4 linked regions of the Homo sapiens genome follow. The protein of the gene in region 1 purifies or fractionates together with the protein of each later gene. This does not show direct contact. Each region holds a gene or a part of one and is shown in the gene's direction. Other genes may lie near its edges.

Region 1 (7,222 bases):
GTAGTCAAGGTTAGAAAGAGGGCTCAATAAAGGGAGCAGAAAAACTAGTCTGTAAACCAACATGACCCAGCTACATGGCCCCAGACAATAACTTTTATTATGCCTCAGTTTCCCTACCTACACAATGGAGGTGGTAGTTTACCTGTCCAAAGGCTAAATTTTGGACCAGATGATCTCTTGGAGATTGTTTCCCTAAATCAGTGTTTTTCAAATGGTCTCAGGCATCTGCATTCCCTGGGGTGCTTTGTTAAAACAGACTACCAGACCCCAGCCTGAGTTTCTGAATTAGAGTAGGTCTAGAGGGTCTTAAAGTGGCACCAAGTTCCCAGGTGCTACTGCTGCCACTGCTGGTGTGGGCTTACACCTGAAGGCCTCTAGTCTCTACAACAGAGATCTCCCAGTCCCTTATACAGGAAAGCAATGTTGGAGGAATGGCTACTGCTGGCTTCCCTTTACTTTTCAAAATGGCTTTCCTTCTTGAAGGGATGAGACGTTAGTTCTATTTGCCCACTGAGTCTCAGGCACTGCAGCCACATCTCAGCAGCCAATTCCAGGCTGAAAGGAGGCTGGGTGGTCACTCTCATGAGGCCATTCTCTGGAGAAAGATAGAGACACGGAGTACAGTTGAGAAGAGAGAGGCAAGAATGCCACCACACAATTCCTTTACATAAGCCACTCTTCTAGAACTTTCTCTTTCCATAAACATGAAGCATAGATTGAAGGTCAACCCTGCATATATGACCAGCAGCAAGAAACGCAAGGTGGGATGCAAGGACTTAGAAGACTAGGAAAGTGCAGACCGCCCTCAGGGACTCTCATCTTATGAGCAAGGCAACATTTACATGTGTTTACACACTTGGGTTCCACATCAAGAGAAGTAGATAATTAGACAATTAGGTTATGTGGCATGAAAATAGAGGCATTCCAGAGAGGGTGTTGGTGGACTTGAGAGATCTGGGCAAGCATTCCTGGAGATGGTGAGGCGGGTTGGCAAAGGCTGGAAGGGAGAGGAAGAACAGGAGCAGTGGAAAGCCAAGTAAAACACGAGAGGAAGCCTGGATGCACCTGGAATATTAGCAGAGCCGACATGAGAATGAGCAGAGAGGGCCGGGCAAGCAGAGGGGGTTGGGTGCGGTAGCTCATGCCTGTAATCCCAGCACTTTGGGAGGCCGAGACAGGCAGATTACGAGGTCAGGAGTTCAAGACCAGCCTGGCCAACATGGTGAAACCCTATCTCTACAAAAGATTAAAAAAAAAAAAAAATAGCCAGGCCTAGGGGTGTGTGCCTGTAATCCCAGCAACTCAGGAGGCTGAGGCAGGAGAATCACTTGAACCTAGGAGGCAGAGGTTGCAGTGAGCCGAGATTGCGCCATTACACTCCAACCTGGGTGACAGGGCGAGACTCAGTCAAAAAAAAAAAAAAAAAAAAAAAAGGAGAGAGAATGAGCAGAAGGGACTCTTACACCTGTCTCTCTCCCTGATGGTATGTACTTCCTTTAGTTGTTCCCATTTCTGTGTCCCAGTTTCCTCCTTTTGTGGAATGAAGGATTCAAGCCAAATTTTCTGAAGTTTCTAAATTTTATTCACCTTGGAGAGACCCCATGCCAGAAAAGGGCAAATGAGCAGGTGAAGCTTAGCCCTTCTCTTTGTCCCACCTGTGCTTCAGCCAAAGCAGCCCTGTTTTCTTATGTTTTTATATTCCTTATACAGCTTTGCTTCCAGAAAGGATTTAAAACTTACTCAACAAGAAATTCTATAAAGGCTCCTTCCATCTGCACATCGTACAGCTTGAGTAGAAGACAGAAAGAAGCCAGTTAGCACAGGTCATGGATTTCTATGTTGGCCAGGCTAGATTCTAGAACAGCTGGAAAGCAGAGAGGGGCTTAGAGCAATGGGGGTGGGAAATAGGGAGCCACTGAAGGTTTGTGAGTAGAGGAGTGTCACAGCAAAAGAATGAATTGAGCCCACAAACTACTGTACTAGGAACTGATCCGAAAATCTCAACTGCTCAGAAAGTTGAGTAAAAACAAAGGGTGATTTTTCCCCCTTGTCAGCCTTCCCTCCCAGGACATTGTATTGTATGCAAAACGGGTAACTGTAAGACAAACATTTTTTTCCACTGCCCTTCTCAGCCCCACAGGCCTTCAGGAAGACCCGAACTTCAAGCAAAGCCTTTTTATTTTTCAACACCCACAGCTTCCATTCAACAATCAGAAGTTTTCCACTTTGATCAAAGAGGCTGAACAAGAGGGCCAAGGGAGCAGCTGGTTCTCAGCAACTCTGGGCAGACCACAGAGCCCTTGCTACCCACTCACTGTCCGTGCCCACCAGAGGACACAGCCTTCTCCCCAAATCAGCCAGGTACATGCCCCAGAAAACACTGGCTTGCCTCGTTCCCACCTTAATTACCGGACCAAACGAACGTGAACACACTGTTTTCAAAACCAAACTCAATTGGGATCACGGGGGCCTCGGTTTCCTTGATTGTAAAATGGGTATATCGCCCCCCACTCTATTTAGCCCAAGAAAACAATTTATCTCTTGATGTCTCTTTCGTCTCCAGGATCTATGCTTTTACAGACTCACTGGGAGGAAATATCCAGACCAAATCCTAAAGCCTGATCTAATTTGGGAGATGCTCAGAAGTTTTGGTTCTATGCAAGAACAGCAGTGGTAATAATCCAAGCTTGGCTTTAGACACAGGACGTTTCCTTAGGGGCATCTGGGATCTCTGCTGGCTCAAAGTGATGCGCTGCAGACAAAAAGTGAGCAGAAAGGAAAGGAGGTGCTATGCAGAATGAGCTTCTTCCACGGTGATACCAAATGGAGCTTTCAAAGGCCCACATCTGGAGGCAGCAGCTATGCAGTGATTAACATTTTAAACGGTATTTTGAAATGGAGATCATTAGTAACCACAGATGTGATCTGACTCTGTCCCCCAGGTAATCTGTCTATTGTATCTAAATTCCAGACTTAGCCCAGTAGACAGCTTGGGATGTTTAACAGGAATTGTCCAACACCATCCCCAAATCTATTTTTATTCATGGAGTACTCTGACATCATCTCGCTTGGTCTTCCTGATGACTGTAATGCAGATTGGGAACAGAGAAAGCCATAAAGACTTGTATGATGGCCCAAGGCTAAGAAGGGAAAGGGCTGAGACCACACTTCAGGTTTTAGCTTTCAGGTGCAGTGAAGATTGAATGACTTAGCACGAGCTTTCAGCCAGGCAGGCTGCAAAGTGCACCCAAGTTCTTTCAGTGATCGACACTTGCGACTTAGGTTGAGATAGTTTTCATCCTCCCTGAGCCTCAGTTTTCCCATCTGTAAAAAATAAACATTGCCTGCCTCGGAGGGTGGAGGTGGAAGTGGAATGAAGCCACATGTAACTCCTAGCGCTGTGCCTGAGACAGTAGAGGTTCAATTATAGTAGTCACATACACACACAACACATACATACACAAGACACAACACACCACACACAACACATACATACACACCACACACAACACTTACATACGCACCACACTCGGCATGCATTGCAGATCACAAATGCACACCACACACACACTGCATACATATACCATAGAGAACACACAACACCTACACATACCCCCATACCACAAATACACACACACTACATAGTACACCACGCAGAACACACACAGCCCCCATATTCCACACCACACCATCTCACTGCCAATTCCTTCCCCTCTTCATGAGTTTTACGGCAGGTCCAGGTTCATCTGCCAGTTTAACAGATCCCAAAACTTCTGCAGGAGTGTTTGTTCAAAAGATTGATATTTCCAGATTCCTGCTTTCTGACAGTATCTTTGAACCCCAAATTTCATACTGCCATGAGCCAGTCCCCCTTTGGAGAAATATCTCCATTTGTGTGCCCTTTTTCCCCCAGGGAACCTGCAGCATGTCCCTTTTTCAGCAGTAGCCTATCAAACCGAACCCTTTGGAGTTATTACACTGCAGTCCGAGGGATCCGGCCTCCCTGAGACCCAGCAAGGACTCATTATCTGGGGAGGTCTTCTGAGCCACAGGCCTCGCTGAAAGAAGGTGCAGCTTCTTGAACAGGAAGGCGTTTTGTGGCAGAGTCTAAACGAAACAGAAGTTGCTTTGTGTGTGCGCACGCATGCACACACACACACACACACACACACATACACACACACAGTCGGGGAACCGTCATTTTCCTACGCGCCCTCTGACATCAGCCACCTTCTCTGTAGCTAGTTTCTCTGCACACAACTTAATCCCTGGCAATGAAAAATGAACCTCTCCCCCACCCTTGCTGCCGCCTCTCGCCTCACGCCCCCAGAGAAGAGTTTCTCCACCAGGCAGCAGGTGAAGGTTTTTTTCCAAGTCACATGATTCAGGATTCAGGGGGAGAATCCTTCTTGGAACAGAGATGGGCCCAGAACTGAATCAGATGAAGAGAGATAAGGTGTGATGTGGGGAAGACTATATAAAGAATGGACCCAGGGCTGCAGCAAGCACTCAACGGAATGGCCCCTCCTGGAGACACAGCCATGCATGTGCCGGCGGGCTCCGTGGCCAGCCACCTGGGGACCACGAGCCGCAGCTATTTCTATTTGACCACAGCCACTCTGGCTCTGTGCCTTGTCTTCACGGTGGCCACTATTATGGTGTTGGTCGTTCAGAGGACGGTAAGTGGACTCCTCTTCCTCCCTTTCCTTTTCTTGTTGTTTTCCCGAGAGAAAGAGCCCTGGGAACAAATGATATTCGTTTGTTGGTTAAGAGCACAAAATAAAATTAAATAAATAAACTCTCTCTCTCTATATATATATATATACTATAGTATATACTGTATAACGTAATACACTTATGTTACATAATATATATTATATTATACAGTATATATTATATATATATATATATATGAGAAAGGGAGAAAAGAAAGAGGAACTTAACTCTCTAAAATAATTTGGCTTGTTGAGAAAAATATTGTTAGACCATCATCTTAAAACTTTGCAGATCTGTCTGAGCAAAACAGTGGAGGGGAGCTATTGGCCTTTTAAAGTTAAGATTTAAATCTTAATGAGCCAGAGACCCATATCAAGGAAGGAAGCAATAGAGAAACCTGATAACACATTTGCACAAGTTGTTATCATGTCTTCAAGGACTTCAGACTGGATTCTGAGGTTCTATATCCTAAGTCTGAGTGTCCTGGAGGTTTCTGAGGCCTCACCCATTGCCAAGAGTTTTGTTTTTGCTTTTGTTTTATACAAGGAGCTAAGTTTCAGAGGCCAAGGTCTAGAAGGAAAGGAGGCGAAAGAGAAGACCATGGCTTCTTAGAGCTTTGGACATTTTGGTGTTAAAGCCAGCAAGACAAATCGAAAGCTTCCTCTTAAGCCACAACTTTGAAGAAGTTAGGGCGTCACAAAAAAAAAAAAAAAAGAAACAGCACATAGAAGCAGAAAGTTGAAAGGTTTTTAGCACCTGTTCTCTCTGATGTTCCTCACAATACTAAGCAATCGTTGGGTACACACTGTACAGGGTCAGACTGTCTTCGGAGATTTACTTTGAAGTAAATGGTAAGATTTGTTTCTGAAAACAGAAGAGGAGGAGAAAGAGGAAGCTTCTTCATATTTTAGAAAATTGGTGTTTACAGAGAATCTACCAGTATATATTATATAGAAAATGCTGTAGTAATAGCATATATTGCTCATGAATTTTTTGATGAAGTTGTTAATGGGTAATTTAAGAGCTGCACCCACCCACATGACCTGCCAAAGTGAGAATATTTCTGTTTCTTACTTCATAGTGCCTACTTTTCGTGGTATTATAATCCTGCTGAATTTATTCTGGTTTTTCTTCAGTTTTCTTAGGCCAAGTACTCTATAGCTTATCAATTGCTGGAAAGAACTAGGCTTTAAAAGGCTTTGATATCTATTTCTCAAGTGTCATCAAGCTTTGAAATTAAATGGAAGCTTTGAAGCTCATATCTCTACAAAAGTGAAAAGAAGGAGTTGCAAATATTTGATTTAGATAGTGGAATTCTTAAAACTCATAATTTAATGGCTTATCTACATCTATTAAGTATAATAATCTTGAAAACACTTTAGGACATCTTTTCTTCTGCAGGGGCTCTGCAATTTCTGTAATTCTAATTTGGAGTGAACCAAGGGTATGTCATTTTATAGCAATGGCCAAAGAAAAGAAATTGAAGTGTCCTTTAAGAAGTTCTTTAGTTAAAGGATCCAACTAGAACTGCTGAGAGAGAGAGAGAGATGGTGGAAAAATGGGTGGCGATGGTGATATATAAAGCTAGAGAGAACTTCAGAGCTCATTCATATCCAACTTTTAGTTGAATTGATTTCTTCTATAAAAGAACCAGAGCAGATCTTTCTGCCTCATTTTTGTAAATGTGGAAAATGAGGAGCAGAGAGGGAACAGGGCTTGAACTACGTCACCCTGAGAAAGTGGTAGAGCCAATACTGCTTGATTGCTTGATGCAAGCAGCATCCCCTTTGCCAATACAGACAGCCACAGAAGCACTAAGAAACATTGCACCCACTCTTCTCTTGGGAGCTTTATCTTCTTGTGCATCCACTTCCTTGACTTACCCCTCATGTTTGGATATGAAAAGATTCACTGTGCAATCTGATTGTACAGTGCGGTGTGCTGTGATTTCTTAGACCAGGAAATATCAGTTGCTTCCTTAAAATTAAGGCTTGCCATGTTAATAGTAGCCGTGGTATATAAAGTGTCAAATGCATTGCACATATCATTTTCAATAAATTCCTCAGACCTTAACTGTTGTAAGACCTAACAAGAAAAAAAAAAGCATCATTTTCCCATTAACTTGAGTTATCAGGAAGGGTTTCCTATAGGAAGATGGAATGTAGACTGACTTGAAAACAGGAAGAACTCAGACAAGTGAAGAGACTCTAAAAGAAACTCTAGGAAAGAAATCAATGGGAGAAAGCCAAGGAGCTTAGACTCACATCACCATTATTAAAAATGGAATGAGTTAATGGTCAATTAGCACTCTGTATGTGATGGGAACAGGGGTGGAGAACCATAAGAATGGTTTTACTGGCACAAGAAGTCACACAATTCTTATCCCAAGGCACGTGTATAGACAAAATTTAAAACAGCTAAGTCATAACATATAATGAGTGATTAAAGGGATACCATGACACCACAAGTTAAGGAGAGAATATATTTTTCCAGACAGGTTTAAGAA
Region 2 (5,037 bases), on another chromosome or scaffold:
GCTTTGGCTCCTTTAGAGCACATGCTCAGGAGTGGCTTCTTGGAGAAAATGACCGTTAAGCTGAGACCGGCAGGTGAGTGGGAGGCAGCCACACCGAGACCTGAGGAGAGTGTGCTGGGTCAGGGAAGAGCGGTGCGAAGGTGGGGAGTGGGGAAGCACAGCCAAGACACAGAAAGGAAGCCAGTGTGCTGGAGCCCCCCGTGAACGAGGGGGGACGTAGCTTGTAAGAGGCTGAAGAAGCAAATCAGTTAAATGGTTACAGGGCCTTAGAGGCCTTGATAAGAAATTTGCATTTTTGTCTGCTTTAAGAAGCCATTGAAGGGTTTTAATCAGGCATCGGAGAGCCATGGTAGGATTCATGTTTTTAAAAGATCCCCTAGTTGTTTTATGGACAGAGAACTCTAGGAGGGCATGAGCTGACCAGAGAGCAGTTAGGAGGCCACTGCCACAGTCCGTGGTTTGGAGGAGGGTGATGGCAGTGGGAATGGAAAGGAGTGAACAGAATCAGGATCTGTTCAGAGGTAGGACTGACGAGGTTTTCTGATGGATCCGATCAGACAGCAAGGAAGGGAGTATGATGTGGATGTAGAGGAGGAGGAGTCAGGCTCCTAATGCAGGTCACAGGCTAGAGGCAACACGGATTTGGGAAAGTCAGGGAGGGCGTTGGACTTGGGAGACGAGCTGAATCTCAGATGCGCTGAACATACGCGCCACTAGAATCGAAGGTAAAGCTAGTTCTTAGGGGTTGCTCCCTCTTCGGTCGCACCTCCCTCAAGTGCTTCCTTTCTGCTTCTCTTGCCTTGTGGCAGGTGCTGCCTCTGAAGGGCATTTGCACCTCAGGACTGGGCTACATTAGGACCCTGGGCTGAGAGAACTGACCTGTTTTTCCTTCTGGCCTATAGGCTGGTGGACCACTTGCTGGCTGCTGCCATAGCTTAGACTTTTACAAATTCTGACAGGCATTTTAAAGCCGGGCACAGTGTGACTTACACCTGTACCCCCATCTACTCAACAAGCTGAGGTGGGAGGATTGCTTGAGCCCAGAAGTTCAAGACTAGCCTGGTCAACAGAGTGAGACCCCATCTCTATTATAATAAACATTTAAAAAATGTTAGCCAATAAGCCATTCATTCATCAAACATTAATTGAATACCCAGCGTGTGCTCCAAGCACATGGAAGCATGGAGAAATGAATCACACATGGCTGTGCCCTCAGGGAAGCCTTGTCTGGAAGTGAGAGAGGTTTGATGGTTTCTGTGCTGAAGGGCTCTGCAGCTAGAAGAGGGATGCAGCTGTGTGGGGGCTTGTAGGGTGCTAAGAGGTTGGTGTGCAAGGCACCAGGAGTGCCTGCAGTAGAAGTTCTTATTAAACGCGCACCAGCAGGACTGAAGTCAGAAACCCTGGGAACTTGTGCCTTCCCACACCTGCCTCAGCAGCTGAGTATTCACTCTCACTCACATCTGCCTTCCTGTCATCACAGGGAGGGTGACAGGACGGTTCTACGGAGAGGATGGGCTGCCCACCCCGGCACTGACCCAGGTAGAAGCTGCGATCACCAGAGGCTTGGAGGCCAACAAACTACAGCTGCAAGAGAAGCAGACATTCCCGCCGTGCAACGCGGAGTGGAGCTCAGCCAGGGGCAGCCGGCTCTGGTGCTCCCAGAAGAGGTAAGCAGGCTCCCCTTCTTCTCCTTTCTGCCTGTCCCAAATCCAACTCCTAGGCCATCCTGCCTGCAGTATTCAGTGAATTCAGGAATTGATTGTTAACCCTGGGGAGCTTTTTCAAAATACTGATAATAATTCTCAACTTTGGCTGCATATTAGATCTTCTGGGGAATTGCCGAAATTACGGATGGTCAGACCTCACTCCACTCAACTGAATGGGTTGAGACTTGGACTTGAGGCCTGGGCATCTTTTTATTTTTTCCGAATTCTCCAAAGATCCTGCTGACACAACCTTGACCCGGGAATGAGAAGGCACAAGCAGGATTTCTTGCTTTCTTTGGCCTGCTCAGCCACCCACGGGCTTTGGTTTCCTGTTTGACAGCACAAATCATGCCTATCTATAGGAGAGGGACGAGGAGGTGGGGAGGGTACCTGCAGTGATGGCTTCAACTGCTGTCTTAAAAACAGGTGAGGCGGGCATGGTGGCTTGTGGGCCACACCTGTGGTCCTGGCTACTTGGGAGACTGAGGCAGGCAGGTCGCTTGAGCTCAGGAGTTGGAGTCCAGCCTGGGCAACATAACAAAAAAACAGTAACAAACAAAAAAAACCACTGCAAATTCGGAGTTCTCAGCCTTAAATGAGCGGAGCAAGGGCAAAGGTAGCAGGAAGGAAAGCTCCTTCTTTCCTGGCCGCTAGCTTTGAAGAGACAGCTTCTCCAGTGTCATCTCAAGAAAGAGGGGACTGTGAGAACCTGGCCTGCTCACTTTATGGAGAGAAGCTAAGATAGGCGTGGGCCTTCCTGTGACACAGGCCTGAATGCAGGTAGCCTCAGAGAGCACTGGTCTCTGAGACTCCAGGAGGAGGAGACTCCAGGAGGCCTGCGTGCGTTCAGATGCTTGACTTTGCTTCCTTGGGCCCTGCCTCCTTTTCCCTCCCCACAGCCTTCCCCTGTGTCTCCTGAACCTCTTCTTGCTTTCATGACTGAGTAGTTCAGGCTCTGCCTTCCCCACAAAACCCTTCCAGGGCCACCCTAGTGAACTGCGGGGCCCTATCCCTGTGCCTCAGCTCAGTTTGTTGTCTTCTGTTCACCTGTGTGTGTCCCATTAGACTGAGAGGAACAAGTGCCGAAGGCAGGGACAAGGTGTGGAGTACAGATCCCCAATGATGGGATGGAGGCTGGGTAGAAGAGGGAGGCGTTTGGGTGACAGCCTTGTTCTTGGTAAGCTAGAAGTAGGATGTTTTCTCGCTGGGGGCAGTTTCTCTGACAGCAGGCACCGGAAGCTGTCTGAGGCGTCAGTTCCAAGAACCTCAGTTTCTTTCTTGCAAGGCCTCTGAGTCCATCAGAGACTGAGCCCAGTGCCCTGAGGTGGGCAAGGCCCCTGCCCAAGATAGGAGGGTGCTCAGGTTGTTGGGCCACAGCTGAATCCTCCGTGTCTGAAGCCTAGTGCCATCAAGGACTGGACCTGTGGGGCACAGGACAGCTTGCAGCTACACTCTATGCCAAGGGCTTCCCAGAGAAGGCCGACCCAGGTGGCCAAGGGCCAGGGCCCAATTGCCCACCCCCAGCCAAGTGCCCCAGAGAAGAAGGTGAAGACCCTGACCTGCGCTGGGTTGTAGTGGGGAAGGAAGAGGACAGTCGCACCCAGACACTGCTTCTGAGAAGCTCACAGGCCAGCAGGGGAAGCCCTTTCACAGCTGTTGCCACCAGTGCAGGAACGTGGTGCTGCCTCCTAAGAAGGGGCAGGGCAGGGGCTGGGGAGCACAGTGAAAGGAACCATGGACTGTGCCCTTGGCCTGGGGAAGGTGGTGGTGGCCCTGCAGGGGAAGCTGGAGGATGTTAGGAGAGAGCATGAAGGCTCAGGGGCTGAGCGCTGTAGCCTGCTGCCTTGGGAAACACTCTGGTAGGCTTCTACTTTTCAGAAGGCCTGGCTCTCTGCTTCCTGCTCTCCCCTTCCCAGAGACTCATGAGTTCTCACATTTAAGAAGTCCTCTTTCCGTCTATCCTTAGTGGAGGTGTGAGCAGAGACTGGATTGGCGTCCCCAGGAAGCTGTATAAGCCAGGTGCTAAGGAGCCCCGCTGCGTGTGTGTGAGAACCACCGGCCCCCCTAGTGGCCAGATGCCGGACAACCCTCCACACAGAAATCGTGGGGACCTGGACCACCCAAACTTGGCAGAGTACACAGGCTGCCCACCGCTAGCCATCACATGCTCCTTTCCACTCTAAGCCGTAGCCTCTTCTGTTAATAACACACAGAGAGCTCTGCCAAGCACCTGAGTAGGCCCTTGACACTTGTGTGCCCTGGGATGCCTCCTGGCGCGAATCAGGAGGGTCTGGAAGGACTCTGGCTATATTCTGCAAATGTGGCTCATGCCCCTTACCGTGGCTCGGCGTTGTGGTGCCTGAGGGACAGCCGGCCACCTGCCCAGTACTGGTCAGCTTTTCAACACTATTCCCTTTGACCTACTGGCCATCTTCCTCACAGCCCTCAGATATCAACGGGCACAAATAAGACCAACTCAATTTCCACTTGAATTTACAACCAAAAGCCTGCTGAGTTGATTACAGCTGGGCCAATACAGTACGAGGCAATAACAAATTAGTGTGGGTTGATTCTGGAATTGGAAAAGCTTTTGCTTGTATGGATACAGCAAATCCAGATGTCTCTGAACAAAGCAACAATTTAAAGCAACGACATTTTCTGTCCTTTAAGCACTTAAAATCAGGTGTGGTGTGTTTTCAAAGGCAGAAGTCTGCATTTTGAGCAAAAGGTGGCTTCCCAGCTCTAACAAGGTAACTGGTTAGCATGACATTAAAGCTTGGGCAAGGCTTCAAACTTAAGGTGGCTGGGCTTGCTGCTTGTCCAGTGGTTTGTATGTCCAGCGTCATCTGGCAATGTCATACCTGTTACCTCTTGACTACTTGTGAAGGTAGATGGGGGCAAGGAGTGTTCCTACTTCAGACAGAGAAGTGGGACCAGCACTACCACAGACAGCGCCACGGCCTCTGTGCATCGCCTCATCAGAGCTTCCACCCAGCTCCCTTTGCCGCTCAGTCTCACCCTCAACATCCACCAGCTTCCTCCCTCTCTGTCACTGTCTCCTTTTTCTCCATCATTCATTTCACTAAATCGCTTTCCAGATTCACAGACTAGAAAATGGAGGCTGCCTCCCCTTCACTGGCAGACCCGTACTCACTGCCCCTGTCCCCTTCACTGGCAGACCCGTGCTCACTGCCCCTGTCCCCTCACTGGCAGACCCGTGCTCACTGCCCCTGTCCCCTCACTGGCAGACCCGGGCTTATTGCCCCTATGGCCACAGCTGTTCCTTACACTTGGGCTCTGGCTCATGGCTCCTTTTGCCTGCCCCCGCCAT
Region 3 (5,634 bases), about 15 Mb from region 1:
AAGAAATAGAAACTTAACTGAACAAGGAAGTAGAAGTGTTTGCCCAACAAACTGACGTGAGACAGGGAAGACTGCTAAAAAGGAAGGAAGGAAGGATTTTCTTGTTCTTTACATTCTTCATAAATCTCCGGAAACAGAGTAATATAAATGGTTGAGGGCATGTCTGGGGGAGTTTCCTGGTATAGCCTTTCACGCTTTGGGGTTGAGGGCTTGTTGCTTGAGTGTCTTTATGTTTGTTTGAAGAAAACATCTGGAACAGATGCTTTTCATGAAATGTCATTGAGTCAGCTCTGTTGGTCTGGGGCACTGTGTACTGTGCAGGTCTTGATCTAGTTCCTTATTCCTCAGTATGTCTGATAGTACTAACTTGAGATTGTAGTCCAAGAGAGATGAAAACTATGGCTACGTTAGCAGTGAATGATATTCACGGATCTTGCCGGGTGGCTCATTCCTGTAATCTCAGCACTTTGGGAGGGTGAGGTGGGTGGATCACCTGAGGTCAGGAGTTTGAGACGAGCCTGGCCAACATGGCACAACCCTGTCTCTACTAAAAATACAAAAATTAGCCAGGCATGGTGCAGGGGATCGGGGCGCCTGTAGTCCCAACTACACGGGGGGCTGAGGCCGGGGAATCGCTTGAACCCAAGAGGCAGAGGTTGCAGTGAGCTGAGATCACGCCACTACACACCAGCCTGGGGGATAGAGTGAGACCCTGTTTCCAAAGACAAAAAAGAGAAGAAAAGAATCACGGATCTTGTACCTCTTATACCTTTAAAAAGTCAGATTTAATAGTCATTTGAGTTAGGAAAAAACTTCTCTGCATTTTAGCATCTATCTCTGCCAATTTCCACTTTTTAGAGATAAGGTTTTAGAAAAGCTGCTACCTAGCGAGTGGGGGTGAGGGTGCCATTCTAAGAGCTCTGACCTCGTCCTTCAGTGCATGAGGAGCAGATGGAGCCTGCGCGCCTCTTGGTGCACCCTTTGAGCTTCGCATCCTGTTTCTTCTTTCATGGTTGGTCCAGGACCAGTTACAGAAGTGGATCCGCGGTAATGTGAGTGCATGTGCGAACTCTGTTTTCATATTTGACGAGATGGATAAATTGCACCCCGGGATCATTGACGCAATCAAGCCGTTTCTAGACTACTACGAGCAGGTTGACGGAGTGTCTTACCGCAAAGCCATCTTCATCTTTCTCAGGTCAGCGGGAGGCGGTTTTTTGGGGCACACAAGCCCTTCATTCTCTCAATGATAAAATGAGGTCCTGAGGACCATCAGCACTTTGTTTACCAGGACGAAAGTGCCTGCTTGGCACAAGGCACTTACCTACTGCTTTACTTTTCCTTTGCCAGTCTCAGCATGGCACACAGTGTGGGTTGTGGAAATGAACTAAAGAAATAATCACTGGGCCAGGCGCGGTGGCTCACACCTGTAATCCCAGCACTTTGGGAGGCCATGGCGGGCGGATCACCAGGAGATCGAGACCATCCTGGCTAACATGGTGAAACCCTGTCTCTACTAAAAATACAAAAATTAGCCGGGCGTGGTGGCGGGCGCCTGTAGTCCCATCTACTCGGGAGACTGAGGCAAGAGAATGGCGTGAACCCGGGAGGCGGAGCTTGCAGTGAGCCGGGATCACACCACTGCACTCCAGCCTGGGTGACAGAGTGAGACTCTGTCTCAAAAAAAAAAAAAAAAGAAATAATCACTGATAGCAGGCAATTTTAGCTGGGCATCGTGGCATGTGCCTGGAGTCCCAGCTCCTGGGGAAGTCGAGGCAGGAGGATTGGTTGAGCCCAGGAGTTCAAGGTTTTATTGAGCTATGATCATACCACTGCACTCCTGCCTGGGTGACAATCAAGACCCCGACCCTAAAAATGAAACAGAAATGAAAACAGTTAATTTTATTAACTGTGCATGTTGGTTTTTAGGGTTATAAAGGGCCATAGCATTATCCCAGCTAGTTGTGAATAAACACTTTAAGTTCCATGAGAGCACACTTTTTTGTCTAGTAGCACTCAGTAAATATTCCTTGATGAAAAATAGATCTTCGGCCGGGTGTGGTGGCTCACACCTGTAATCCTAGCACTTTGGGAGGCCAAGGTGGGCAGATCACTTGAGGTCAGGATTTCAAGACCAGGCTGGCCAACATGGTGAAACCCCGTGTCTACTAAAAATACAAAAATTAGAAGGGGCGTCGTGGCAGGCGCCTGTAATCCCAGCTACTCAGGAGGTTGAGGCAGAAGAATCACTTGAACCCGGAAGGTGGAGGTTGCAGTGAGCTGATATTGCGCCACTGCACTCCAGCCTGCGTGACAGAGTGTCTCAAAAGGAAAAATAGACTTAGAGCAGATTCATTTCTTGGTAAGACACAGAAGTCTTTTTTTTTTTTTTTTTTTTTTTGAGACCGAGTTTCATTTTTGTTGCCCAGGCTGGAGTGCAATGGCATGATCTCGGCTCGCTGCAACCTCCACCTCCCGGATTCAAACGATTCTCCCACCTCAGCCTCCCATGTAGCTGGGATTACAGGCATGCACCACCATTAGCCTGGCTAATTTTTGTGTTTTTAGTAGAGATGGGGTTACTCTATGTTGGTCAGGCTGGCCTTGAACTCCCGACCTCAGGTGATCTACCTGCCTCGGCCTCCCAAAGTGCTGGGATTACAGGCATGAGCCACCACACCCAGCAGACACAGAAGTCTTAATATGTGATTTTAATCTTTATTTCTCTGGCAAACTCAGCAATGCAGGCGGGGACCTTATAACTAAGACGGCTCTTGACTTTTGGCGGGCCGGAAGAAAGAGGGAAGACATTCAGCTGAAGGACCTGGAACCTGTACTGTCTGTCGGAGTCTTCAATAATAAACACAGTGAGTCCACCAGGGTAAAGGAGCCCCTTAACTGTCCAGCAGTGAGCCGTCTGCTCTTTCATTGAGTGTTTCACAAAGCCACAGGATCCCACTGGATTTCCTCACTTTGCTAAAGTCAGGAATTTTCTTAGGGCATACTGTGCTAGAAACCAGTGAGTGAGTGTCCAGCTGAGTCCTGCATGGGCTTGTTGCACACTGACAAGAGACTCTCTCAAGGGGTACGGACATGAGGAATGTGCTGAGGGTCGGGACTGGAGCTTGGCCAGGTGGCGGTGGTGGCAGGAAACCCAGCTGTGTCTTGTTCTGCAGGTGGCCTGTGGCACAGTGGACTGATCGACAAAAACCTCATTGATTACTTTATCCCCTTCCTGCCTTTGGAGTACAGACATGTGAAAATGTGTGTGAGGGCCGAGATGAGGGCCCGTGGTTCTGCCATAGATGAAGACATTGTCACAAGAGTGGCAGAGGAAATGACGTTTTTCCCCAGAGACGAGAAAATCTACTCAGACAAGGGCTGCAAGACTGTGCAGTCGCGGCTGGATTTCCACTGAGCTCCTATCCAGATGGGGTAGGAGACAGCTGGGAGGCTCCGCACGCCAGAGGCCTTGCCTTTCAGAAGAACCCTGAAGACCGCTTTGGGGTTTTGCCTGTTTGCACCTTAGACTTTTGGGTATAGAATCTTTTTTTTGAGAAGAGGTCTCACTCCGTCATCCAAGCTGGAGTGCAGTGGTGCAATCCTCAACTCACTGCAACCTCCGCTCCCGGTTTGAGTGATTCTCATGCCTCAGCCTCCCGAGTAGCTGGGATTACAGGCATGAGCCACTGTGCCCAGCTGGGATATAGAATCTAAGAGTTGATTGTGGAAAACACGTGAATCTATTGCGCGCATTTGTCATTTAGCAAGATGGCAGCAGTCCAGCTGTTCTTTGCAGCTGGAGATGAACTTTTAAAAATCCCCTTCACACTTAATGTACTGACCGAGACAGAAGTACCTGAAAACAGCTGTGCATGGCAGGCCCGGCAATAGCTTCTGACCCACAGCACCCGCGCCTCAGAAGCTACGGTCACAACTAAAGGAGTCCAGGGACTTGCTGCAGGCTGGGGGGCACTGGGTGGTTCTCACCAGCAGGCTGCGGGGCACTGTGTTCTCATTGGCCAAAAACATCCTTTTGCTCTGTCTCGTTCTTTACACAGAGTTCACTGACTTGAAGTATACTCAGTTAAAATCGGGGCTGGAGGTGCAGACGGTGTCTGACCGGAGGATGTGGCCGTGCCCGCCGAGCACTCTTGATCTGAGCTGACCTGTGTGTGTGTGTGTGGGGGGGTGGGGCCTTCACCTAAGACCTCTGCAGCAGACCTGGACAGACAGGCCCCTCCCGCCTGTCCATCGCTCTAGCTGCTAATACAGCCCTGGCTGTGGAATCCTTCACCGTCTCAGCTGGTATCAGCCCCAGCCTGCCTTGTGCCATATCTCAGCTTGGATCTCTGCTAGAGTCCCCCCAACCATATATCATAGAGTTGAATCACAATGAGACCGTTGGCTTTGAATTTGAGTCGTTGGTTCCCATGGTGAGATGCTTGTTAAGACTTTATACTTGGGTCAATCTCTCACTTTATTTTGTAGAACCATTTGAAATCCTAGGATGTGCTTGTTCTGGAAGGATGACATGGGCCCAGACTGAACAAGTCAGCTTGATGATCTTAAATGATGGAAGTATAGGACGTTGCTTATTTTAAAACAAGGGAAGGACACAAAATGGAATGACTGCTTAGTCCTTTCTCAGATACTCTTAAAACAATTTTTTATTGTTAAATTTGTGGTAATACATGGTCACAACCGTGGATCAAACAAGGTCAGTCTAAAGTGGCAGGTCCTAGGTGTGACCTGATACCACCACCCTTTGTGGCAGCACCGGGCTGGACTGCCCTGATCCCTGGGACGTGAGACTTAGCTTCCAGCCAGTGTGAATCATTGTATCTGTCTCATAATCACAGCACAGCTGCAGACACAACAACGTGCAGCATTTTTTACATAAAAATATGGTAGAATTAATTTATGACATGGAAATGCCTTACGTGGTATCACACTTAGTCTTGAAAAAAACACCAAGGTGACGTTTAAAATTTTTAGTACATATCCTCAAATTGGAGCTAAGTTATACTTCTTTTATAACCTTTTGGGCATCTGGTCGAGAGAAGACAAGATTTTCTCTATTTACAGTGAGGCAATAAATATGTTTGCCACCTTTGGACTGCCGTTACTGATTTGTAACTTGAAAAGGCTACGGTTGATCATGACCCCGCCTCCCCCACCTCCCTTATAAGATGTGGACGAGAGCTTTATTGACCTACTGACTATAAAATAGTAAATTCTAGATTTTATCATGTGAAATGCCACTTGCTAACTTTTTCTAGTTTATTTGGTTCCAAAGTTCAGAATGAATTTCAGCAGCACAGCTGTGAGACTCACCATATCCGGGACAGGCGGGTGGGCAGTCAGCGCGATACAGAAGCAATATTTACCTTAAAGGCTCTTCCCCAGACAAATAGAAGTTAAATTAGCTGATGGATATTTCATCAAAGAGATGGACTTTCTCCCAAAATTAACGTGGGAGGAAATTGAGGTACTGGTAAAGTAAAACTCACCTCTGACAGCCTGAACCTGAGCTCAGGTGAGGAAACCTAACCATTGAAACTGGTAAATAAATCCTGGCCGGGTGCGGTGGCTCACACCTGTAATTCCAGCACTTTGGGAGGCCGAGGTGGG
Region 4 (6,941 bases), on another chromosome or scaffold:
GTTGCAGAGAGCTGATCACACCATTGCACTCCAGCCTGGGCTACGGAGGAGACTCTGTTTCAAAACAAACAAACAGAAAACCAAAAAAACACTTAGCATAGTACTTAGAACATGTTTTTCCCTGAGTAAATGGTGCTATTATTATTCTTCCACCTGTTGAAGTTCCTGTTCAGGTGCTGAGTCTCTTTGTTTAAATATGGATTCCTCCCAGGAGGATCTTGCTTAACACATAGGAATAGAGAAGATAAAGGTTTACTCATCTAGTGTAATCATCCTTTTAGAAATTGTCTTCCTAGTGGCTTCCCCATAAATTCTTCCATACACCTGTCCAAGGAAACTGTCCTGTGTGGACCAGAAGCCTCCCCCTCCTCATGACTGGGCAGAGAAACTAGAGGCCTTTCAGGCCAGGCCCTCAGCAACTCCAAACTGAGTTGCCTTGGACACATACCAGTCTTTGAATTCATTTACTAAGCAGGCAAGGCAGAGTGGAAACAGTGGAACTATGTTAATCTCCCGTCTTTTCTCCTCTAAACCCTAGTACTAGAGATGTAAGCCTTGAAATGCTACTAAGGAACGTGCGGGTTTCACAATAGCAGGAGGCCATCTGAGAGGAGGACAAGACTCCACAGGCATGTTGGATTTGGGAAGCAGGGCTATAGTCATTCATTCATTCATCCAACACATAGTTATGTAATTCCTATGTGACAGGAACTATTTCAGGCATATAGGATACAGCAATGGCTTGCTCAATTTATTGAGACTTGTTTCGTGGCTCAGCATATAGTCTGTCTTGGTGAATGCTCCACATTCCCACCAACAGACTTATAAAGACAGTATTGTTTATTATCATCTCAAATTTACGGTGGAAAAAAATGAACCTTACATAGTTTAATTTCCTTTAGTCCTACCCAGCTACCAAGTAGCAACACTGGAATTTGAACTGAGATTTCTGACACCATAATCTGAGCTCTTAAGTTTCTCTTTTACACATAGAAAAGGAGAAACAAATTGTCTTTTCATCTTATCCATTTGACTGCAGGTAAAGTCAACAAGTTTCTAATCATGGGGTTCTGAAAATAATATTTACATTGCTCTGAGTCACGGGGATTTTCATCAAATAATATTCAATAGTGGATACTACTCAATACTACTGTGAGTTGCCAAGAAGGAATATTTGGTAAAAAATATAGTAATTAAATTTTGCTATAATTTATGATTATGTAACATGATTAAATTGAGCATGGCATCATTTAACATCCAACAAATTTTGTTTTGGTATTGAAGAATGATGTGTTTAAGTTTTAAGGCTGGATTTTCTTTCTAGACACTTTCAACTATGAAATATACACAATATTGGACAATAGTTAACCGTTCTTTTGATGTTGTTGTTTAGAAAATTAATCTCAAGCGAATAAAATAGAATTCATACAATTAATGAATCCTATTATTCCATATGGATGAACTCAGAACTAACTAGAAAGTAAGTTTCACAGAGATTTTTGAGTTTTGTTCACTCGTGTGTGTACAGATTAGGCACTCAGAAAATAGTTGAAGGAATGAATTGGGAAAGCAAATAGAATATGAAAGCCTTCTACCCAACACAACATGTCTTTGAGTTTAGGTTTAGGGTGGGAATAAGAAAAATAACATGATATGCATAAGTTATCTTAAAATGATAAAAAGTTTAATTTAAAAACCTAATTTACCAAGAGAACCGAAAACATATGTCCACACAAAAACTTGTACACAAATGTTCATAGTAACATTATTCATAACATCCCCAAAGGAGAAACAACCCAAATGTTCATCAACAGATGAATGATTAAACGAAATGTGATACATCGATACAATGGAATATTATTCAGTTATAAAAAGGAATGAAGTACCAATACATACTACATCATGGATGAACCTTTAAAATATTATGCTAAGTGAAAGAAGACAGACACAAAGGGCACATATTGTATTATCCATTCATATAAAATGTCCAGAATAGGCAAATTAATAGAGACAGAAAGTACATTAGTGGTTGCCGAGGGATGAGGGGAGAGGGGAAATGGGGAGTGACTATTAATGGGCATGGGGTTTCTTTTGGGGGCGATTAAAATGGAATTAGATGGTGGTGATGGTTGTACAATCTGGTGAGTATACTAAAACCCACTGAATTGTACGTGCCCTTTAAAAGGGTGAATTTTATGGTATGTGAACTCTCTTTTATAAAGTGGAAAAAAACTCCTAAGATCTCTTCAGAACATGTCAAAATACATTATAAAATAATAGACATGTGTTTACAAATCTGAGAGTATTAGGAAATGTTCCCTTGTTTAATTATAAACCAAATGGAATGTTTGGAGATTTCAGTAATCTGACAGGGAACATTAAGGGGATTAACCTGACTTCCCCAGTGTTAACAATACCAATTTAAACTGCATCATTCAAAAACTACATAGTCATATTAAAGCATTTGTAGCAATGACTTCCACGAAAAAAATACCAATTAAATTAATTACCCATTAAAGCTGCCATCATCTGAAATACCTCATATTTATATAGTGCTTTTACTTCCTCAAGTATGAATTGTGCCTTAAGATCTAATGTATGGGAGAGTCACATCTCTAACCATTTAATTAAAGGTAGAGAAGTGGGTGGGATTGGATAGAAATTTATTAGCAATGCTGACATTCCAGATTGGAACACAAAGACAAGCAGGATGTAAGAAACCTAAAAGTTCGCTTTCAATGCAGATAGTTAAATGCCAAGAACTATAATTGCCACATCCTGGAGTACAATTAAAAAATATGTTGAAAAACAACCAACATACATAAAAATATACACAGTGTTAAGTGCAGACTATGAAATTTCCCTTGGAAACAGAATCCAGATCAAGAAATAGAATACAGCACCCGGAACTAAGGTGCTTTTTCGTTTTCTTAAAAAAAAAAAAAAAGTAAACCAAGTTTATTTTGCTTTTTAAGTAGTGTTGTTCTTAAAGCACTACAGGTTGGTAAACAACGTATAAGGTGCTTTTTCTCAGGCCAAAGAGCCATAATAGTTTAAATTTCCCGGTCCTCAAGAGCGGACCGGGTGGGCAGGAGAGGACCCTGGGGTGGTGATGTGTAAACTGTATTATGCACTTTAGCCTGCTGGATGGCAACTAACACCTACAGTAGTTCACCCTCATTTTAACCCCTCTAAGTAATTGTCTCTTATTCTGAATCTAGAGATTCAGAAACAGCGCCAATGTTTACACACGACTTTTGAAATTTTCCCAGGAGTCTTTCGTTGGAGCAATACATCTAGATGCCTTTTTCCAGCAACAGTTTAATCAAATTCTGGAAGCAGAAAAGTGTCCTGTGAGGACGTGCCTTTCCTATCAAAGTGCTGAGTGCCTGGACCCTCTTTCCGGAGGAAACAGTCCCCTCTGGACCTCGTTCGGCCTCTCTCCATCAGACACCCCAAGGTTCCATCCGAAGCAGGCGGAGCACCGAACGCACCCCGGGGTGGTCAGGGACCCCCATCCGTGCTGCCCCCTAGGAGCCCGCGCCTCTCCTCTGCGCCCCGCCTCTCGGGCCGCAACGTCGCGCGGTTCCTTTAACAGCGCGCTGGCAGGGTGTGGGAAGCAGGACCGCGTCCTCCCGCCCCCTCCCATCCGAGTTTCAGGTGAATTGGTCACCGAGGGAGGAGGCCGACACACCACACCTACACTCCCGCGTCCACCTCTCCCTCCCTGCTTCCTCTGGCGGAGGCGGCAGGAACCGAGAGCCAGGTCCAGAGCGCCGAGGAGCCGGTCTAGGACGCAGCAGGTGGGACTCGCGGCGCTGGCCCGCAGGCTTCCCGCACCCCCTTCCACGTTGGTGCGCATGCCCGGGGGCAGGGCCGGTTGTAGGGAGGAGGGAAAGGAGAGGGAGAAGGGGGAGGAGACGTCCCCAGCCCAGTCCCCGGCTGAGCGCTGGCGGTCGGTGCGGCGTCAGGTGCGCCCGCCAGGTGAGCGCGCTCCCTGGCACCGTTGGCCCCCGGAGGGTCGGGCCCAGTTGCGGCGAGCGGGTGAGTGTTGGGCGCGGCGTCAGGGGCGCACGGGAGCCCGAGGGTCCCCGTGGGGGGACCGCGGCGACTATGTTAGGGGAGGTGCCGGGGGGAGGACGCTCCGCGCTGGTTTCGGTGGCAGTTTCGTCCCCGAGCTGGGACTCGTGGGAACCAGAGAGGCGCGGGTCTGCGGAGAGAGCAGCACCGGCCAACTTGGGAGGCTGCCTCCTGGGGCGAGGGGTGGCTTGGAGCCGCCGATCAAGCTTTATTCCGCGGAAACGCTGAAAGCTAGCAGTGCCTCAGCGGCGCGGGCAACTTTTCACTTTTATGGGGCACGACATTCCTGAACAGCGACGATCCTGCATCCGCTCTGGGGCTGCAGTTTGGGGGGGCGGCCTTCATGGAGAGGGATCCTGCGCCCAGCTCCTTGGGGGTCCTAAGCCTGAGGCTGCAGCGAGGCGGCTGTTCGGCGGCCCGGGCGGCTTAGATCCCGGGGGGAATTTCATTCCTTCCGCTCCCACCCCACCCCTTTGGATATCCCGGGGAGACGGGGGCTGGATTCAATCTGTGAAATATTCCAGGAGTCACGGTGTGGGCCACACTGGCTACTTCGAATCCACTTGTTGCGAGTTGTGTGAACCCGCGTCGATTTAAGCTGGGGGGCGGGGAGTTAATTTCGAGTGAGGCTGGACTTCGAGGGAAGCTGCTCACGCTTCGGATTCTCATCCGTGACCAAAAGGGCTGCCCCCAGGGGGGCGGAACTGCCTCCGGGCGGTGCCTGCCCGGCGAACGTGGGCGCGCGCTGCCTGGGAGCGCCTCGGTGCGCACGGAAGCCGGGACCCGCGCCCAGCCGGGCCACGGAGTTTGGGGACCTCCGGGACTGGGCCGGCCCCGCGCGCCAGCCATGTTGCCTGCGTCGGAGGAAGCGTGCGGGGAGCAGGGGTCGAGGGCCAAGATGGCCTCTGCGCCTAGGGGTTGGGAGCGGCGCCGAGCCCCTCGCGCTCCTCGGGAAGCCACCGGGCCCGAGGGAAAAGCCGCGGCATCCTTAGGCCGGACCCGGGGCTCGCTGGCCACACTGCCCGCTTGGGGAATTACCCTGCTCGAGGAGGAGGCGGCGGCTTTCCAGGCCAGTCAGTGTGTGGCCCTTAGGCAACAGGTGTATTATTGGGATACCTGGAAAAGAGAAACGTTTCCCATGAAGGCACTTATGGTGTTTTTTGGTGATTCTTGGTGTGATAGAAAACTAGGCGTTCCCAAGTGTAACAATAGTAACAGTAGTTCTTTTGCACTGTACATATGAGGTGCTTGTGTGTGTGTGTGTGTGTGTTTTTCCGAGACGGAGTCTGGCTCTGTCCCCCAGTGCAGTGGCATCATCTGGGCTCACTGCAACCTCTGCCTCCCGGGTTCAAGCGATTCTCCTGCTCAGCCTCCCGAATAGCTGGGATTACAGGCACCCACTAGTATGCACAGCTAATTTTTGTATTTTTAGTAGAGACAGGGTTTTGCCATTTGGTCAGGCTGGTCTCGAACTCCTGACCTCAGGTGATTCGCCCGCCTTGGCCTCCCAAAGTGCTGGGATTACAGGCGTAAGCCACCACACCCAGCCTTTATGAATATTTTCTTAGTGGTGCTTTAAAATAGACATCTTAAGTGTGTGTGGGAGGCAGAGATATTTCCTCAAACAAAGCAACACTTTTTTTTTGGTCGTTTTGCAATTTATTTAGTTATTAGGGGCCTCCTTTGTTAGGTGACGGAGCAGAGGATAGGGAGATCGGTAAGACATGATTCTCCACCTTTTGGCAGTTTCCAGGCCATTTCGGGAAATAGTGGGCAGCAGTGCCTCCTGCACGTGAGGCACTGTGGTAAAAGCATTCTGTATTTTCTCATTTAATTATCCCAACAACTCTAAAAGGCAGGCCTTAGTAGAACTCCATTTTAAAAGTGGGCAAATGCCGTGGGGGAAACGTTGCAGGTGGGCTTGCTTGCAAACTGCTTCAGCTAATATGGGAAGGAGTATCAGAAGCAGCGGTCCTTGATATTCCAGAACCAGATTTGGGGAATTTTTCTGGACTTTTCTACCATTGACTAGTAACTGTAGCCTGATACAAGATTTCCCGCATTTTGCTTGATATCAAGGTAAAATTCTTGTTTTCTTCTAAAGGTAGTGTTGGAATTACTACCTTTTCAAAATAGTATATTACTTTTAACCACATAAATGATCTGATGTAATATCTTTCATCTTCCTAGGAACCTCCCAGAAGGAAGTTTTCTTCAGTTGCATTTTAAGGCTTATTTGATTGGAATATTAATGGATCTTTTTCATCAAATTACTATTTATGGAAATAAGAGAGTAAACAGACCATGCAGATTTATGTTAGGCTTTTTGTTTTAACCCCTAGGCTTGCCGCTGTTCCGTAACCCAGTGATTCCAGTCTTGGCTGTGGTATGAATCACTTAGGGATCCTATTAAAACACAGATTCTGATTGGGAGGTCAGGAGTGGGGCCTGGGATTCTGCCTTTCTAACAGGCTCACAGGTGATTCTCAGACTGTTCTGTCTTCTTTTTCTCCCTTTCTCTTAGACTCTACGCACTTAATTACATTTGACAAACTGAAGTTGGAAAAAATAACGTTTATTGAGTGTTGTGTGAAGAACTTCAAGGCATTCACTGCTGGATTGAAATCCCAACTCTAATAATTGACTGTTGGTTTTATTAATTGAGTACTCATTGACAATCACTTTGTGCCAGGGCTAGTTCCAGCGACCAGGGATATAAATGATGGTCAAAATAGACATTTGATGTCTGGGATATGGGCATTCCAGATGCGGTGGAGATGATACCTATATTTTAGGTATGAGGGCAGAGGGGAGTTTGCTCTGAAAAAAAAAACAAGTTTTGTGTGATGGAGTGAGGGACA

What was found.
Region 2: the proteins of TNFSF8 (region 1) and CYB5D2 purify together in Homo sapiens (co-immunoprecipitation; 3 studies listed by BioGRID and IntAct, with this or other methods). This does not show direct contact.
Region 3: the proteins of TNFSF8 (region 1) and TOR1B purify together in Homo sapiens (co-immunoprecipitation; 3 studies listed by BioGRID and IntAct, with this or other methods). This does not show direct contact.
Region 4: the proteins of TNFSF8 (region 1) and OCLN purify together in Homo sapiens (co-immunoprecipitation; 3 studies listed by BioGRID and IntAct, with this or other methods). This does not show direct contact.

Annotation. Positions count from the first base shown.
Region 1 is NC_000009.12:114,927,566-114,934,787, reverse strand, and holds the start of TNFSF8 (tumor necrosis factor ligand superfamily member 8), read left to right. Parts: upstream 1-4,196; 5' UTR 4,197-4,484; coding exon 4,485-4,679; intron 4,680-7,222.
Region 2 is NC_000017.11:4,153,194-4,158,230, forward strand, and holds the end of CYB5D2 (neuferricin isoform 1 precursor), read left to right. Parts: intron 1-1,480; coding exon 1,481-1,667; exon of another isoform or gene 1,668-1,730; intron 1,731-2,096; exon of another isoform or gene 2,097-2,231; intron 2,232-2,753; exon of another isoform or gene 2,754-3,000; intron 3,001-3,672; coding exon 3,673-3,889; 3' UTR 3,890-4,504; downstream 4,505-5,037. UniProt on the Homo sapiens protein: Heme-binding protein which promotes neuronal but not astrocyte differentiation.
Region 3 is NC_000009.12:129,806,166-129,811,799, forward strand, and holds the end of TOR1B (torsin-1B isoform 1 precursor), read left to right. Parts: intron 1-1,022; coding exon 1,023-1,198; intron 1,199-2,739; coding exon 2,740-2,867; exon of another isoform or gene 2,868-2,903; intron 2,904-3,176; coding exon 3,177-3,418; 3' UTR 3,419-4,061; coding exon of another isoform or gene 4,062-4,168; 3' UTR 4,169-5,116; downstream 5,117-5,634. UniProt on the Homo sapiens protein: May serve as a molecular chaperone assisting in the proper folding of secreted and/or membrane proteins. Plays a role in non-neural cells nuclear envelope and endoplasmic reticulum integrity. May have a redundant function with TOR1A in non-neural tissues.
Region 4 is NC_000005.10:69,488,857-69,495,797, forward strand, and holds the start of OCLN (occludin), read left to right. Parts: upstream 1-3,933; 5' UTR 3,934-4,044; intron 4,045-6,169; exon of another isoform or gene 6,170-6,559; intron 6,560-6,941. UniProt on the Homo sapiens protein: May play a role in the formation and regulation of the tight junction (TJ) paracellular permeability barrier.